2 linked regions of the Homo sapiens genome follow. The protein of the gene in region 1 binds, or shares a complex with, the protein of each later gene. Each region holds a gene or a part of one and is shown on either strand. Other genes may lie near its edges. A codon is read from its position in the direction of its gene.

Evidence for each region.
Region 2: the proteins of LIMK1 (region 1) and PAK4 are in contact, whole or in part, in a crystal structure (PDB 6WLY), measured with the Homo sapiens proteins. Residues at the interface, in NP_002305.1 of Homo sapiens: Lys505 (codon at 1,167), Arg506 (codon at 1,170), Tyr507 (codon at 1,173), Thr508 (codon at 1,176), Val509 (codon at 1,179), Val510 (codon at 1,182), Gly511 (codon at 1,185); in NP_001014831.1 of Homo sapiens: Glu329, Gly330, Ser331, Gln358, Arg359, Leu362, Thr404, Asp440, Lys442, Ser443, Asp444, Phe461, Leu475, Val476, Gly477, Thr478, Pro479, Tyr480, Trp481, Met482, Glu507, Phe516, Pro520.

What each region holds. Positions count from the first base shown.
Region 1 is NC_000007.14:74,114,738-74,122,139, forward strand, and holds part of LIMK1 (LIM domain kinase 1), read left to right. Parts: intron 1-1,064; coding exon 1,065-1,221; intron 1,222-5,845; coding exon 5,846-5,901; intron 5,902-6,154; coding exon 6,155-6,312; intron 6,313-6,401; coding exon 6,402-6,564; 3' UTR 6,565-7,402. UniProt on the Homo sapiens protein: Serine/threonine-protein kinase that plays an essential role in the regulation of actin filament dynamics. Acts downstream of several Rho family GTPase signal transduction pathways.
Region 2 is NC_000019.10:39,170,612-39,178,013, forward strand, and holds part of PAK4 (serine/threonine-protein kinase PAK 4), read left to right. Parts: intron 1-2,306; coding exon 2,307-2,765; intron 2,766-2,964; coding exon 2,965-3,399; intron 3,400-4,319; coding exon 4,320-4,453; intron 4,454-4,700; coding exon 4,701-4,827; intron 4,828-5,978; coding exon 5,979-6,104; intron 6,105-7,063; coding exon 7,064-7,198; intron 7,199-7,402. UniProt on the Homo sapiens protein: Serine/threonine-protein kinase that plays a role in a variety of different signaling pathways including cytoskeleton regulation, cell adhesion turnover, cell migration, growth, proliferation or cell survival.

The sequences.
Region 1 (7,402 bases):
ACCCCGTCTCTACTAAAAATACAAAAAATTAGCTGGGCATGGTGGCAGGCGCCTGTAGTCCCAGCTACTTGGGAGGCTGAGGCAGGAGAATGGCGTGAACCTGGGAGGCAGAGCTTGCAGTGAGCTGAGATCGTGCCACTGCACTTCAACCTGGGCAATAGAGCAAGACTCCAACTCAAAAAAAAAAAAAAAAAGATAAAATTGGGCCAGGTATGGTGGCTTACTCCTGTAATCCCAGCACTTTGAAAGGCTGAGGCAGGTGGACCACTTGAGGCCAGAAGTTGAAGACCAGTCTGGGCAACATAGCAAGACCCTATCTCAATCAGTCAATCAACCTAAATAAATAGTAAATCTGGTGGCATGCCAAGCACAGGACCTGGGTCTATAATCAAAATTCCTGTCTTGATGGGCACAGTGGCTCACACCTGTAATCCCAGCACTTTGGTAGGCCACAGTGGGTGGATCACCTGAGATCAGGAGTTCGAAACCTGCCTAGCCAAGTATGGTGAAACCCGTCTTTACTAAAAATACAAAAATTAGCCAGGCATGGTGGCAGGCGCCTGTAATCCCAGCTACTCGGGAGGGTGAGGCAGGAGAATCGCTTGAACCTGGGAGGCGGAGGTTGCAGTGAGCCGAGATCGCGCCACTGCGCTCCAGCCTGGGTGACAGAGCAAGACTCCGTCTGAAAAAAAAAACAAAAGAATTCCTGTCTTCTCTCCGAAACAAAGCAGCATCAGTGCCCCCGCAGGTGGGAGGGAGCGCTTGCAGGAGGGAGCAGTGGGTCCGCCACGACGGTCTGGGGAGCAGGTGGGGAGGGGGCAGAGGGTGCAGCGTGTGGTGGGAGGGAGGAAGCCACACTGCTATCTTCAGGTGCTTCCCGCAGCTCCATTTGCAAAGAGCGGATGGGTTTGGGGAAGGAAGGGGTCCCCACCCTGTGCCAATACAGCGTATCAGAGGTATGTTCTCTGGGCTGTCTACAGGTTGGCTTGGGGTCCTGGGGAGGGGCAGGCCAAGCGGGCAGTACTAGGATCGGGTCCCAGCATGACCCGGCTTCACCTTCCCAGAACAAGAATGTGGTGGTGGCTGACTTCGGGCTGGCGCGTCTCATGGTGGACGAGAAGACTCAGCCTGAGGGCCTGCGGAGCCTCAAGAAGCCAGACCGCAAGAAGCGCTACACCGTGGTGGGCAACCCCTACTGGATGGCACCTGAGATGATCAACGGTGAGTGGTTCAGCCCTGCCCATCATGGCCCTCACGGGAAGCCATGGGGGAGCCCAGGAGAGCTGTAACCTCCCAAGCCCCTGGCCCCTCCCAGCCTCCTTGGCTCTTCAGTTACCCTGTGGGTCCTGTTGCTCCTATAACACACTTAGTGGCAGCCAGGCACGGTGGCTCACGCCTGTAATCCCAGCACTTTGGGAGGCTGAGGTGAGTGGATCACCTGAGGTCAGTAGTTGGAGACCAGCCTAGCCAACATGGTGAAACCCCCATTCTTTACTAAAAATACAAAAATTAGCTGGGCATGGTGGTGGGTGTAATCCCAGTACTGTAGTACTGTAATCCCAGCTACTAGGGAAGCTGAGGCAGGAGAATCGCTTGAACCTGGGAGGCAGAGGTTGCAGTGAGCCGAGATCGCGCCATTGCACTCCAGCCTGGGTGACGAGCGAAACTCCATCTCAAAAAATAAATAAATAGAAGACACTTAGTGGCTTAAATAAATGATCATACAGTTCTGGAGTCTGAAGTCCAGCGTCAGCCTCACCGGGCTGAAATCAAGACGCCGGTAGGGTGAGCTCCTTCTGCAGGCTCCGGGGCACCTGTTTCCTGACCTTTTCTGGCTCGTGGAGGCTTCCTCATTCCTCCTGTTGCTGCCCCCTCCTCTGTCTTCAGGGCTGGCTGCAAAGCATCTTCTCTTCTCTGATCTCTGCATCCATCCCCGCATCTCTTTCCCTGGCTCTAACCTTCCTCCTTTTTTTTTTCTTTTTTAAAGAGGGTCTCGCTCTGTTACTCAGGCTGGAGTGCAGTGGTGCCACCATAGCTCACTGCAGCCTCAACCTTCTGGGCTCAAACTGTCATCCCACCCCAGCCTCCTGAATAGCTGGGACCACAGGCATGCAACACCACACCCAGCTAATTTTTTTATTTTTTATTTTTTATTTTTTTTTGAGACAGAGTCTCGCTGTGTCTCCCAGGCTAGAGTGCAGTGGCGTGATCTCAGCTCACTGCAAGCTCCGCCTCCTGGGTTCACGCCATTCTCCTGCCTCAGCCTCCCGAGTAGCTGGGACTACAGGCGCCCGCCAACACGCCTGGCTAATTTTTTGTATTTTTAGTAGAAACGGGGTTTCACCGTGTTAGCCAAGATGGTGTCGATCTCCTGACCTCGTGATCCGCCCGTCTCGGCCTCCCAAAGTGCTGGGATTACAGGCGTGAGCCACCGCGCCTGGCCAATTTTTTAAATTTTTAATAGAGACGGGGGTATCACTATGTTGCCCAGGCTGGTCTCAAACTCCTGGCTTCAGGCGATCCTCCTGCCTTGACCTTTCAAAGTGCTGGGATTCCAGGCATGAGCCACCATGGCCCTCCATCCTTCTGATAGGGACCCTTACGGTGACATTGGGCCCACCTGGATAATCCAAAAGCAGCCCTCCATCTCAAGACCCTCAACTTAATCCCATCTGCAGAGTCCGATGGAAGGTGGGACGTATACAAGTCCCAGGGATCAGGACGCAGTCATCTTTGGGGATCATAGTTCTGCCTCCCACAGGGTCTGCTTCCCTCAGTCCATTTCTTTGCTGTCAATGGTCCTATATATGCCCAGATTATAGGTTATAAAGTCCTTCTACAAGCAGGTGACACATGAACACAGGTTCAGGGCAGGCAGACCCCAGCCATCACCTCATCATAGTTAACCTAGTTAAATTAGCCTGGCATGTGGCGTGGTGCCTAATGCCTGTGGTCCCAGCTACTCAGGAAGCCAAAGCGGGAGATTTACTTGAGCCAAGGAGATCAAGGCTGCAGTGAGCTATGATCATACCACTGCCTTCTAGCCTGGGCAACGGAGTGAGACCCTGTCTCAAGAAAACAAAAAATAGGCCAGGCACAGTGGCTCACACCTGTAATTCCAGCACTTTGGGAGGCTGAAGCAGGCGGATTGCTTGAGGCCAGGAGTTCGAGACCAGCCTGGCCAACATGGTGAAACGCTGTCTCTACTGAAAATACAAAAATTACCCGGGTGTGGTGGCACAGCTACTAGGGAGGCTGAGGCAGGAGAATCACTTGAACCCAGGAGCAGAGGTTACATTGGGCCAAGATTGCACCACTGCACTCCAGCCTGGGCAACAGAGGAAGACTGTGTCTCAAAAAGAAAAAAAAAAAAACCTTCCTGTAATCCCAGCACTTTGGGAGGCTGAGGTGGGCGGATCACGAGGTCAAGAGATTGAGACCATCCTGGTCAACATGATGAAACCCCATCTCTACTAAAAATACAAAAAAATTAGCTGGGCGTGGTTGCACGCGTCTGTAGTCCCAGCTACCCGGGAGGCTGAGGCAGGAGAATGATGTGAACCCAGGAGGCGGAGCTTGCAGTGAGCCGAGATCGCACCACTGTACTCCAGCCTGACGACAGAGTGGGACTCTGTGTCAAACACACACACACACACACACACACACACACACACACACACACACACACAGAGTTAACATAGCCCGCAAAGAAGACTATAAAACAGTCTTAGTGGCCGGGCGCAGTGGTTCACGCTTGTAATCCCAGCACTTTGGGAGGCCGAGGCAGGTGGATCATGAGGTCAGGAGTTTGAGACCAGCCTGGCCAACACAGTGAAACCCCATCTCTACTAAAAATACAAAAATTAGCTGGACATGGTTTCGGGCGCCCGTAATCCCAGCTACTCAGGAGGCTGAGGCAGGAGAGTTGCTTGAACCCAGGAGGCAGAGGCAGGAGAGTTGCTTGAACCCAGGAGGCAGAGGTTGCAGTGGGCGACAGAGCAAGACTCTGTCTCAAAAAACAAAAAAGTCTTAGTGTTTCCTATGTTTAGGGATTAGTGTGAGGATTAAAGGTTGTAAACTCATTTCCACCTAGTTGGCATTCAGTAAATGAGAATTGACATTTAGTACTAATTGTTTCGGGTATTTTGTTTTTTGTTTTTTGTTTTTTGTTTTTTCTGAGACCGAGTCTTGCTCTGTCATCCAGGCTAGAATGCATGGTGCGATCTCGGCTCACTGCAAGCTCCGCCTCCCGGGTTCACACCATTCTCCTGCCTCAGCCTCCCACGTAGCTGGGACTACAGGCGCCCGCCACCACGCCTGGCTAATTTTTTGTATTTTTAGTAGAGACGGGGTTTCACCATGATCTCGATCTCCTGACCTCGTGATCCACCCGCCTCAGCCTCCCAAAGTGCTGGGATTACAGGTGTGAGCCACCGTGCCCGGCCAGTTTTTTGTTTTTGAGATGGAGTCTTGCATTGTCACCCAGGCTGGAGTACAGTGGCGTGATCTCGGCTCACTGCAACCTCCACCTCCTGGGTTCAAGTGATTCTCCTGCCTCAGTTTCCCTAGTAGCTGGGATTACAGGCACCTGCCACCATGCCTGGCTAATTTTTCTATTTTTAGTAGAGATGGGGTTTCACCATGTTGGCCAGGCTGATCTTGAACTCCTGACCTCAGGTGATCCACCCGCCTCGGCCTCCCAAAGTGCTGGGATTACAGGTGTGAACCACTGTGCCCGGCCATGTACCGATTATTTTTAACATCATTAAGTAGCTGGTATCATTCCCATTTTACAATAAGGAAACTGAGGCTCAGAGAGTCTGTGTCAGTTTCCTGAGGTTGCTGTAATAAATTGTTAGAAACTTGATTATTTAAAACAGCAGAAAATGGTCAGGCACAGTGGCTCACACCTGTAATCCCAGCACTTTGGGAGGCCGAGGCGGGCAGATCACTGGAGGTCAGGAGTTCGAGACCAGCCTGGCCAACATGGTGAAACACCATCTCTACTAAAAGTACAAAAATTAGCTGGGCATGGTGGCAGGCGCCTGTAATCCCAGCTACTCGGGAAATTGAGGCAGGAGAATCGCTTGAACCCAGGAGGCAGAGGTTGCAGTGAGCCACAATCGTACCACTGCACTCTTGCCTGGACAACAAAGCAAGACTCCATCTCAAGATAAAATAAACAGCAGAAATTTATTCCCTCTTAGTTTTGGAAGCCAGAAGGTTGAAATCCAACAGGGCTGCGCTCCCTCCAGGGCGATCTAGGGGAGAATGCATTCCTTGCCTCTTCCACCTTCTGGTTGTTTTGCATTCCTGGGCTTGTGGCCGCATCACTCCAGTCTCCACCCCTGTCTTCACAGGGCCACCTCCTCCTCTTCTGCTGTGTCTTCTCTGTGTCTCTCTCAAGAGGGCATTTGCAGTGGCATTTGGGGCCCACCCAGATCATCCAGCATCATCTCATCTCCAGATCCTTAACTTAATCCCATCTGCAAAAGACCCTTTTTCTGACCCAGTAACATTCACAGATTCCAGAGACCTGACATGGTTCCCTTTTGGGACCAGCACAGAGTTCATGACTTGTGCAAAGTCACGCAGCTGATCGGTGCCTCGAACTCCTTGTCCAGGGCTCTGCCCCTTGCTCCTCAGAGCTCCCAAAGGCTTGCTCAGACCTGGTGGGGTTGGGGGAAAGAGCCTAAGCCTGGGTTCCCATAGAGGTTGCCGGCATCTGCCTCCTGGGCCTGGACCTCCCGGCCGGGGCATCCTCCCAGCTGGCCTGGTCCCCTGCCTTTTGGCATCCCTGGCACCCCCATGTGTTCATCTGCTGACAGTCGGTCTCTTTATCCAGGCCGCAGCTATGATGAGAAGGTGGATGTGTTCTCCTTTGGGATCGTCCTGTGCGAGGTAGGTCCAGGGTTGGGTAGCAGCGGTGTTGAGGCCTGGGCTCCTCCCCACTCACCCAGGCTGCAGGCTCAGCATCTGCAGGGGCCTCATGCCAGGAAGCCTGCCCACAGCAAGGCATGGGCTGGCCCCCATGGGGTACTGCAGTCAGGCTGCAGCCAGGCCCAGTGCCACCTGCCCTCAAACCACCTGGATGGCACCCAGATGCCCAGGCTGAGGGCCCCCTGGAGTAACTGCCGGGCCTTGTACTGGACAGATCATCGGGCGGGTGAACGCAGACCCTGACTACCTGCCCCGCACCATGGACTTTGGCCTCAACGTGCGAGGATTCCTGGACCGCTACTGCCCCCCAAACTGCCCCCCGAGCTTCTTCCCCATCACCGTGCGCTGTTGCGATCTGGACCCCGAGAAGAGGTGAGTGGGGTGGGGCCCTGGCCTGGGAGACGGTGGGGCCGATTCCCGGGACAGCCAGACCCACCGTTCCCCACCCACCTGTCACCCAGGCCATCCTTTGTGAAGCTGGAACACTGGCTGGAGACCCTCCGCATGCACCTGGCCGGCCACCTGCCACTGGGCCCACAGCTGGAGCAGCTGGACAGAGGTTTCTGGGAGACCTACCGGCGCGGCGAGAGCGGACTGCCTGCCCACCCTGAGGTCCCCGACTGAGCCAGGGCCACTCAGCTGCCCCTGTCCCCACCTCTGGAGAATCCACCCCCACCAGATTCCTCCGCGGGAGGTGGCCCTCAGCTGGGACAGTGGGGACCCAGGCTTCTCCTCAGAGCCAGGCCCTGACTTGCCTTCTCCCACCCCGTGGACCGCTTCCCCTGCCTTCTCTCTGCCGTGGCCCAGAGCCGGCCCAGCTGCACACACACACCATGCTCTCGCCCTGCTGTAACCTCTGTCTTGGCAGGGCTGTCCCCTCTTGCTTCTCCTTGCATGAGCTGGAGGGCCTGTGTGAGTTACGCCCCTTTCCACACGCCGCTGCCCCAGCAACCCTGTTCACGCTCCACCTGTCTGGTCCATAGCTCCCTGGAGGCTGGGCCAGGAGGCAGCCTCCGAACCATGCCCCATATAACGCTTGGGTGCGTGGGAGGGCGCACATCAGGGCAGAGGCCAAGTTCCAGGTGTCTGTGTTCCCAGGAACCAAATGGGGAGTCTGGGGCCCGTTTTCCCCCCAGGGGGTGTCTAGGTAGCAACAGGTATCGAGGACTCTCCAAACCCCCAAAGCAGAGAGAGGGCTGATCCCATGGGGCGGAGGTCCCCAGTGGCTGAGCAAACAGCCCCTTCTCTCGCTTTGGGTCTTTTTTTTGTTTCTTTCTTAAAGCCACTTTAGTGAGAAGCAGGTACCAAGCCTCAGGGTGAAGGGGGTCCCTTGAGGGAGCGTGGAGCTGCGGTGCCCTGGCCGGCGATGGGGAGGAGCCGGCTCCGGCAGTGAGAGGATAGGCACAGTGGACCGGGCAGGTGTCCACCAGCAGCTCAGCCCCTGCAGTCATCTCAGAGCCCC
Region 2 (7,402 bases), on another chromosome or scaffold:
GGGGAACTCGGCCAGGTTTGCATCCAGCGGGTGGAGATGGGTGTGCCTGGGGACTCACCCTCCCGGTGCCCAGCCCAGCCTGGCGGGGAGAAGCCCCAAGGCCCACAAGTTGGCCATAGACACAAGTGCAGCCTCAATGTGGTAGCCCACTGAGGGGTCCGTGTGGTCCTTGCAGGGTGCTTTTGAATGCTTTGACTTCTTTGCCTCCACTGAGAAAGTGACAGACTTCACTTCCAAAGCCGTTTCTGGCATCTGGTGACAGACCAGCTGGAGGCGAGTGGCAGCTGCCTCCACGGGCAGGGCACTGGCTCTTCTGGGCCACAGGCCGCACCCGACCCACCTCAGCTCCACGCCCTGCCTGGCTCTGTGGCCACTTGCATGTAGGCTTTGCCCCCACCAAGGTGTCTCCAAAAACCCAGCCCCTGCCTGGCTTGCCAGATGTGAGGCCTGCCTGTGACTGTCCCAGCAGGAGGCAGGGCACTTGAATTCACACATGGGGCCTTGTGGCCAGCACTGTCCTGGGGCCCCATAGGCACTTGTGTTTGCTGCCCTTGACCGGGCCTCAGGCCTCCCAGGACCTTCTCGACTCCCTGTTGGTTTTTTTTTTTTTTTTTTTGAGAGACATTCCTGCTCTGTCTCCCTGGCTGGAGTGCAGTGGCGCCACCTCGGCTCATGCAACCTTCGCCTCCTGGGTTCAAGCGATTTTCCTGCCTCAGCCTCCCGCGTAGCTGGGATTACAGGCGCCCACCACTATGCCCATCTAATTTTTGTATTTTTAGTAGAGACGGGTTTTCGCCATTTTGGCCAGGCTGGTCTCAAACTCCTGACCTCAGGTGATCCTCAGCCTCCCGAGGTGCTGGGATTATAGGCGTGAGCCACTGCTTCTTGCCTCAACGCCCTGTTCTAACAGCAAAGTCTGGCCTTGTGTCCACCTTGACTTCCTGGGGCCCCTGGGCAAGGCCCGGCTTCAGGCAGACAGCCACGGCCAGGAGAGACAGGGCAGCGGCAGACCACGGATTTTGTGGGATCAGTGTTTTCTACACGTTACAGGCAGGCCTCTGGCTGGAGGATGCCTGGCAGCCCCAGGCAGGGTCCGGGTTTCGTGGGATCAGTGTTTTCCACACATTAGAGGCAGGCCTCCGGCTGGAGGACATCTGGCAGCCCCGGGCAGGGTCCTTGTCAGCAGGGCCCACGTTCTCAGCTCACTGTGGCCTTTGCACAGACACCTCACTCACTACGTGGTTTAGCAAAAGTTCACTGAGCCCCTGCTGTGCGCCAGATGCTGGTCTAGGTGCTGAGATGGAGCAGGACCCGAAGCAGACAGGAAAAAACAATCCCTGCCCAGAGCATGCACTAGGCAGAGCCGGGAGCAGACAGATGCCTGTGTGCTCTGTATCAGCTGCTGTTAGGTGCTCTAGGTAGAATGCAGGCAGGGCAGGGGCCGGGGAGGGCAGGGGCTGGCATTTTAGATGATGGGAGGCCAGCAGAAGCCTCACTGAGAAGCTGAGTTTTGAGCAAAGACCTGAAGGAGTGGAGGGAGGGAGCCACAGGGACCCTGAGAGCTGATGTTCCAGGCAGAGGGAGCCGCCAGCGGAGAGGCCCTGGGCGCAGGGGGGCGGGGGTGGGGGAGACACCCGTGTGTCTGGAAATGGAACGGGGGCAGAGGGGGCCTGCAGGACACGACTCAGACCACAGAGGGTGGGGACCGGGTGACTCGGGATGCACTGGATGCTCTGCCTGGTCCCCATCTGCATTTGCATTTGCCACCCGGCTCCTGGGACCCCCTTGCCCTCTACTTTGGGACCAGGCCTTTCTGACTCTCCCTGTCCCCCACTCCTTGTTGTTCATGGGAGCAGAGAGTGTGGTTTTGGGGCTAAGGAACACTGGCGCCCACATGGGAGGAAGTGCCAGGCCAGGCCCTGGCCCCAGCGCCCTGTCATTTGCAGCCCTCGGGGCTGATTATGGGGTGGGTCAATTTCTGCCCTTCCTCCCCCAAACCCCTCAGGGCAGGACTATTCCACCAGTGTGAGGAACAGGAGAAAAACAAGGGGGGCCTCTCCAGGGTCCCACCGAGCCCAGGGGGCAGCAGCCTGGCCATGGCGATCACTCCTCTGGCCCCTGCAGCTGTGTCCCCAGGGAGGGGAGGGGCTGCACTGCCCATGCCATTGTCACTCCATGGCATCTCTTCATTGCGTCTCTGTCTTGTCTCTGTGTGTGTCGTGCTGTCCTGTCCCTGCGTGTCGGATGCACGTCCTGTGTGCCCCACTCCTTGCTGGGCCCCCACCCACCATTGCCTGGGACCCCAGACCATCGTGCGGGGCAGCAAAGGTGCCAAAGATGGGGCCCTCACGCTGCTGCTGGACGAGTTTGAGAACATGTCGGTGACACGCTCCAACTCCCTGCGGAGAGACAGCCCGCCGCCGCCCGCCCGTGCCCGCCAGGAAAATGGGATGCCAGAGGAGCCGGCCACCACGGCCAGAGGGGGCCCAGGGAAGGCAGGCAGCCGAGGCCGGTTCGCCGGTCACAGCGAGGCGGGTGGCGGCAGTGGTGACAGGCGACGGGCGGGGCCAGAGAAGAGGCCCAAGTCTTCCAGGGAGGGCTCAGGGGGTCCCCAGGAGTCCTCCCGGGACAAACGCCCCCTCTCCGGGCCTGATGTCGGCACCCCCCAGCCTGCTGGTCTGGCCAGTGGGGCGAAACTGGCAGCTGGCCGGCCCTTTAACACCTACCCGAGGGCTGACACGGACCACCCATCCCGGGGTGCCCAGGTAACCCATCCCCCGCCCCAGGGCCCCCACTGTCCCCTGCCCGTTGCTCCTCTGTCCCCACCTTCCAGCCCCGCCCCACCACCGTGCATCTCATCCTGACCACCCATGTGTCTGTCCCATCGCTGGGTCTCTCTCCTGCTTAGGGAGCAGAGCTGCTCCCTGGCACCCATCACTGACAGCTACCTCTCTTCTGTTTCAGGGGGAGCCTCATGACGTGGCCCCTAACGGGCCATCAGCGGGGGGCCTGGCCATCCCCCAGTCCTCCTCCTCCTCCTCCCGGCCTCCCACCCGAGCCCGAGGTGCCCCCAGCCCTGGAGTGCTGGGACCCCACGCCTCAGAGCCCCAGCTGGCCCCTCCAGCCTGCACCCCCGCCGCCCCTGCTGTTCCTGGGCCCCCTGGCCCCCGCTCACCACAGCGGGAGCCACAGCGAGTATCCCATGAGCAGTTCCGGGCTGCCCTGCAGCTGGTGGTGGACCCAGGCGACCCCCGCTCCTACCTGGACAACTTCATCAAGATTGGCGAGGGCTCCACGGGCATCGTGTGCATCGCCACCGTGCGCAGCTCGGGCAAGCTGGTGGCCGTCAAGAAGATGGACCTGCGCAAGCAGCAGAGGCGCGAGCTGCTCTTCAACGAGGTGCGGGCGCTGCTGCCCTGCCGCCCTGCTGGTCCTCCCACCCCTCCCTCCCACCCTCCCTCCCCTCCTCCCTCCTCTCCCTGCACTCCTCCGTGCTGGGCCAGGCTCCCCTCCTCCCCTCACTCTTCTCCCTCCCCAGGCCGTCTCGTCCGCCCCAGCTGGGTCCCTGCCTCTGTCCTCACAGCACCCTCACCCACATCTCTGTCCCTGAGCCCCAGACCCAGGGTTCCTCGGGCCACTGACCCCCGACCCAGTGTCTTCCAGGCCCCTCGCACCCACTGAGGCCCGCCTGGGCTCCAGGGTACAGTGTCCTCCAGACCTGCCCCTCCTGGGTTCCCTGTGCCCCGCCCTGGCCTCCACTCCTGGGTGTCCCTCGGCACAGCCCACACAACCACCAAGAGTATGTTTCTGACGTTCAGGCCCACCCCCTCCCCGTCCCTCCTTAGAGACCCTGGCAGTGCCCCGTAGCACCCTGACGATAGGAAGCCCAGGTCCCTTTGCCGGGTGTGTGAGGCCCCTCTCGACCCCGTTGCCCATCACAGTGCCGGGCTGCACCATGGAGCTCCTCGCCTGGGTTCCTCATCCTCCCGCCGACACACGCCTCTTCTCTCATCCTTGCCCTTGTCCGGGTCTCAGCCCTGTGATTGAACGCTCTCTTCCCACCTGCCCCCCAGCACTAGCCCAGGACTGACCTGAGATGGGCGTGTGCCCAGGGGGGCGCGCCCCCAGAAGGGAGGCGTGGGCTTCAAGCTGGCTCTGAGGCCCACGTGGCTGTGGCAGTAGGGGAGGGCAGTCCAGGTGGCCCCAGTGAGCACAAGCTTAATGTGGAACTGCAGGGGGAGCCAGGGGGGTGGCGGTGGCTGGGTCTGGCACTGGCAGCCCTCCCGCCTCCCTCCACCACTGACCCAGCCCCTGCACAGGTGGTAATCATGAGGGACTACCAGCACGAGAATGTGGTGGAGATGTACAACAGCTACCTGGTGGGGGACGAGCTCTGGGTGGTCATGGAGTTCCTGGAAGGAGGCGCCCTCACCGACATCGTCACCCACACCAGGTATTTCTGGGGCCTCAGACCCCTCCTGTGACACGACCAAGTCCCCTCCAGACCACTAGGGGTGGGGCCACATCTCCAAACCAGCTGTGCTCCGGGCCCCTGGGATGGGGTCGTGTCTTCCATTCCTCCCACTCCAGAGTGGGGTCGAGTGGTCTCAGATTCCTCCCACTGCAAGGCAGGGCTGCGTCCCCCTCGGCACCCCGGGGTGCTGTCCAGCTGGCTGCTCACCCCCCACCCCACCCCGCAGGATGAACGAGGAGCAGATCGCGGCCGTGTGCCTTGCAGTGCTGCAGGCCCTGTCGGTGCTCCACGCCCAGGGCGTCATCCACCGGGACATCAAGAGCGACTCGATCCTGCTGACCCATGATGGCAGGGTGAGGGGACGGGCGGCGGGGTACGGGGGCGGCAGGTTTCCGGCTGCGGGGCTTCCCTGCCTCTTCCCATCCCCTGTGAGGGTAGGTGAGCTCTGACCCCCAGGTCTGTGTCTTGAGGAGCTGGGAACTTCGTCCCTCCCTGGTGGAGCAGCCCAGAGTCAGGTTCCAGCTCAGTGGGGACTCTGTGCAGTGGGAGGGCACAGGCTGGCGGGGGCTCTGCCATCAGCACAGGACACTGGGCCCAGGGGCAGGGATCTGGGCAGACAGCGCAGCCCCCGCCACAGGCTTCTTCCTCCACTGAAAAGCTGCTCCCTGCCCAGCACCCAGGGCGGTCCATGGACCCCAGTCCTGTCTTCCATGCTTTGGACTGAGGTTCCAAATCTGAGGCTGTGACAATTATAACGTCGGGTGGACATGATTTTCTGTGAGAGAGGGCCCTTGACTTGAATGAAATGCTTGCAGAAGTGGATGACTCCATCCCCTCCCCCAAGGAAGATTAAGCCACACCATTAGTCCAGGCAGAGGCAGAGAGAGCTCTGTGTCACTGACAGTCTGAAAATCTCCAGATGTCTATAGATGTGTTTTGGGGGCGATGTCTATGGGCCACCTGAGATTGTCCACACACGGTTGTGGGGATGTTTGCTGGAGGCAGGAAGACCCATAGAAATCCTCAAAAATCGGAAAGGGACCCACAGTTCCTAAGAAGGTGTGAGAGGCCTGGTTGTCGCAAAGGCAGGCTGTGTCCCCTCACGGCCCTAGTGCAGGGCTACTTTCTGCTCCAACCGAACTAAAGACTTGTTCCAGGGCAGCAGGGCCCCAGGGCACAGGCTTTTGGGGCCACCCCTGTTCCCAGCTCCGGCCCTGCCTTTGCTATCTGCAGTACTCAGGCCAGTGTCCCCAAAAGCCCCAGAGGCTGTCAGGGAGGGAAATGGGGGGATCGTGGGGGAGGTGACTTGCCCGAGGGCCCCCACCAGGAGGTGGTGGAGCTCCCCATTGGTCTGGCTCTAGACCCCAGCTCTGACCCTAGACCCCAGCTCTGACCTCTGGGCCGCACATTGTGTCTGAAGCCAAGGAATGACGCAGGCAGACGCCCCTGCTCGCCCTCCTGCTGTGCCAGCTCCTCTGACCCCACTGCCTCTGCCCTGTCCCAGGTGAAGCTGTCAGACTTTGGGTTCTGCGCCCAGGTGAGCAAGGAAGTGCCCCGAAGGAAGTCGCTGGTCGGCACGCCCTACTGGATGGCCCCAGAGCTCATCTCCCGCCTTCCCTACGGGCCAGAGGTGAGCCCCGGGGTGGCTTGGTTGTCCCGCCGTGGACAGCGTACGCTGCCATTTTCCAGCTGCAGCGCTGGCGGGAGATGGGGCCCAGTCTGGGGAGTCATTGCCAGGAATGGTGCTCTGGACAAGGAGGTACTGCAGGCATGCATGTATTCATTCTTCTTTTTTTTTTTTGAGATGGAGTCTCGCTCTGTTGCCCAGGCTGGAGTGCAGTGGTGCAATCTCAGCTCACTGCAACCTCCACCTCCCGGGTTCAAGCGATTCTCCTGCCTCAGCCTCCCGAGAAGCTGGTTTTACAGGCACCCGCCACCATGCCTGGCTAATTTTTGTATTAGTAGAGATGGGGGTTTCACCATGTTGGCCAGGTTGGTCTTGAACTCCTGACCTCAGGTGATCTATCCGCCTTGGCCTCCTAAAGTGCTGGGATTACAGATGTGAGCCACCGCGCCCAGCCTTGGCTCTGCCTTCTGAGCATTGTTTTCACAGGCCGGCTTTCCCCTTGTGGGAGCAGAGCTGGTCCCGGCAGCTCTGGGAAGTGTCTCCCACCTATGGGCTCCTCTTTTTCCCTGGGTGTTTTGGGTAAAGTCCCCAGGTTGGCTCTGATTGGCTCAGCCTGGGTCCTGTGCCTGTTTCTGAACCAATCACTGTGTCTCCACTGTGGTGATGAGGCCGCATGGGTCCTGAACCCACCAGTGGATGCTACCTGGGCTGAGGGAGGGAGGACACCTGGGGGCAGTTGACAGAAAGAAGAGGGGTGGGTGCTGGGGGGGCAGCTCTCTTGAGGGGCTCCCTGGAGGACTAGTGCTCTGTGGACTGCTGGCTGGGTGCCCAAGAGGGAGTTCTGGGCCAAGGACTCCAGGAGCCAGAGGCAGAGACAGCGCTGGAGCGGTCCCTGCCTGAGGCCTCCCCAGGACCCACCATCCCCCAACAGCTCAGCCCTGCTGTCCCTTCTCCCGCCCCAGGTAGACATCTGGTCGCTGGGGATAATGGTGATTGAGATGGTGGACGGAGAGCCCCCCTACTTCAACGAGCCACCCCTCAAAGCCATGAAGATGATTCGGGACAACCTGCCACCCCGACTGAAGAACCTGCACAAGGTAGGCCCCTCCCTGGCTGGGAAACTGTGCGCCAGCTGGCGGGTGGCAGGGCTCCAGGTGGAGCATGGGGTGTGGATGGGATGGGGACAATGATGGCGCCTGGGATGGCGCTTACTGTGTGCTGGGCCCCCCACCCCCGGGCCTCATGTGTCTGTGCAGACCCCCTCTGTGGGGCCTGGGCGACAGAGGCAGCAGAGCCACAGG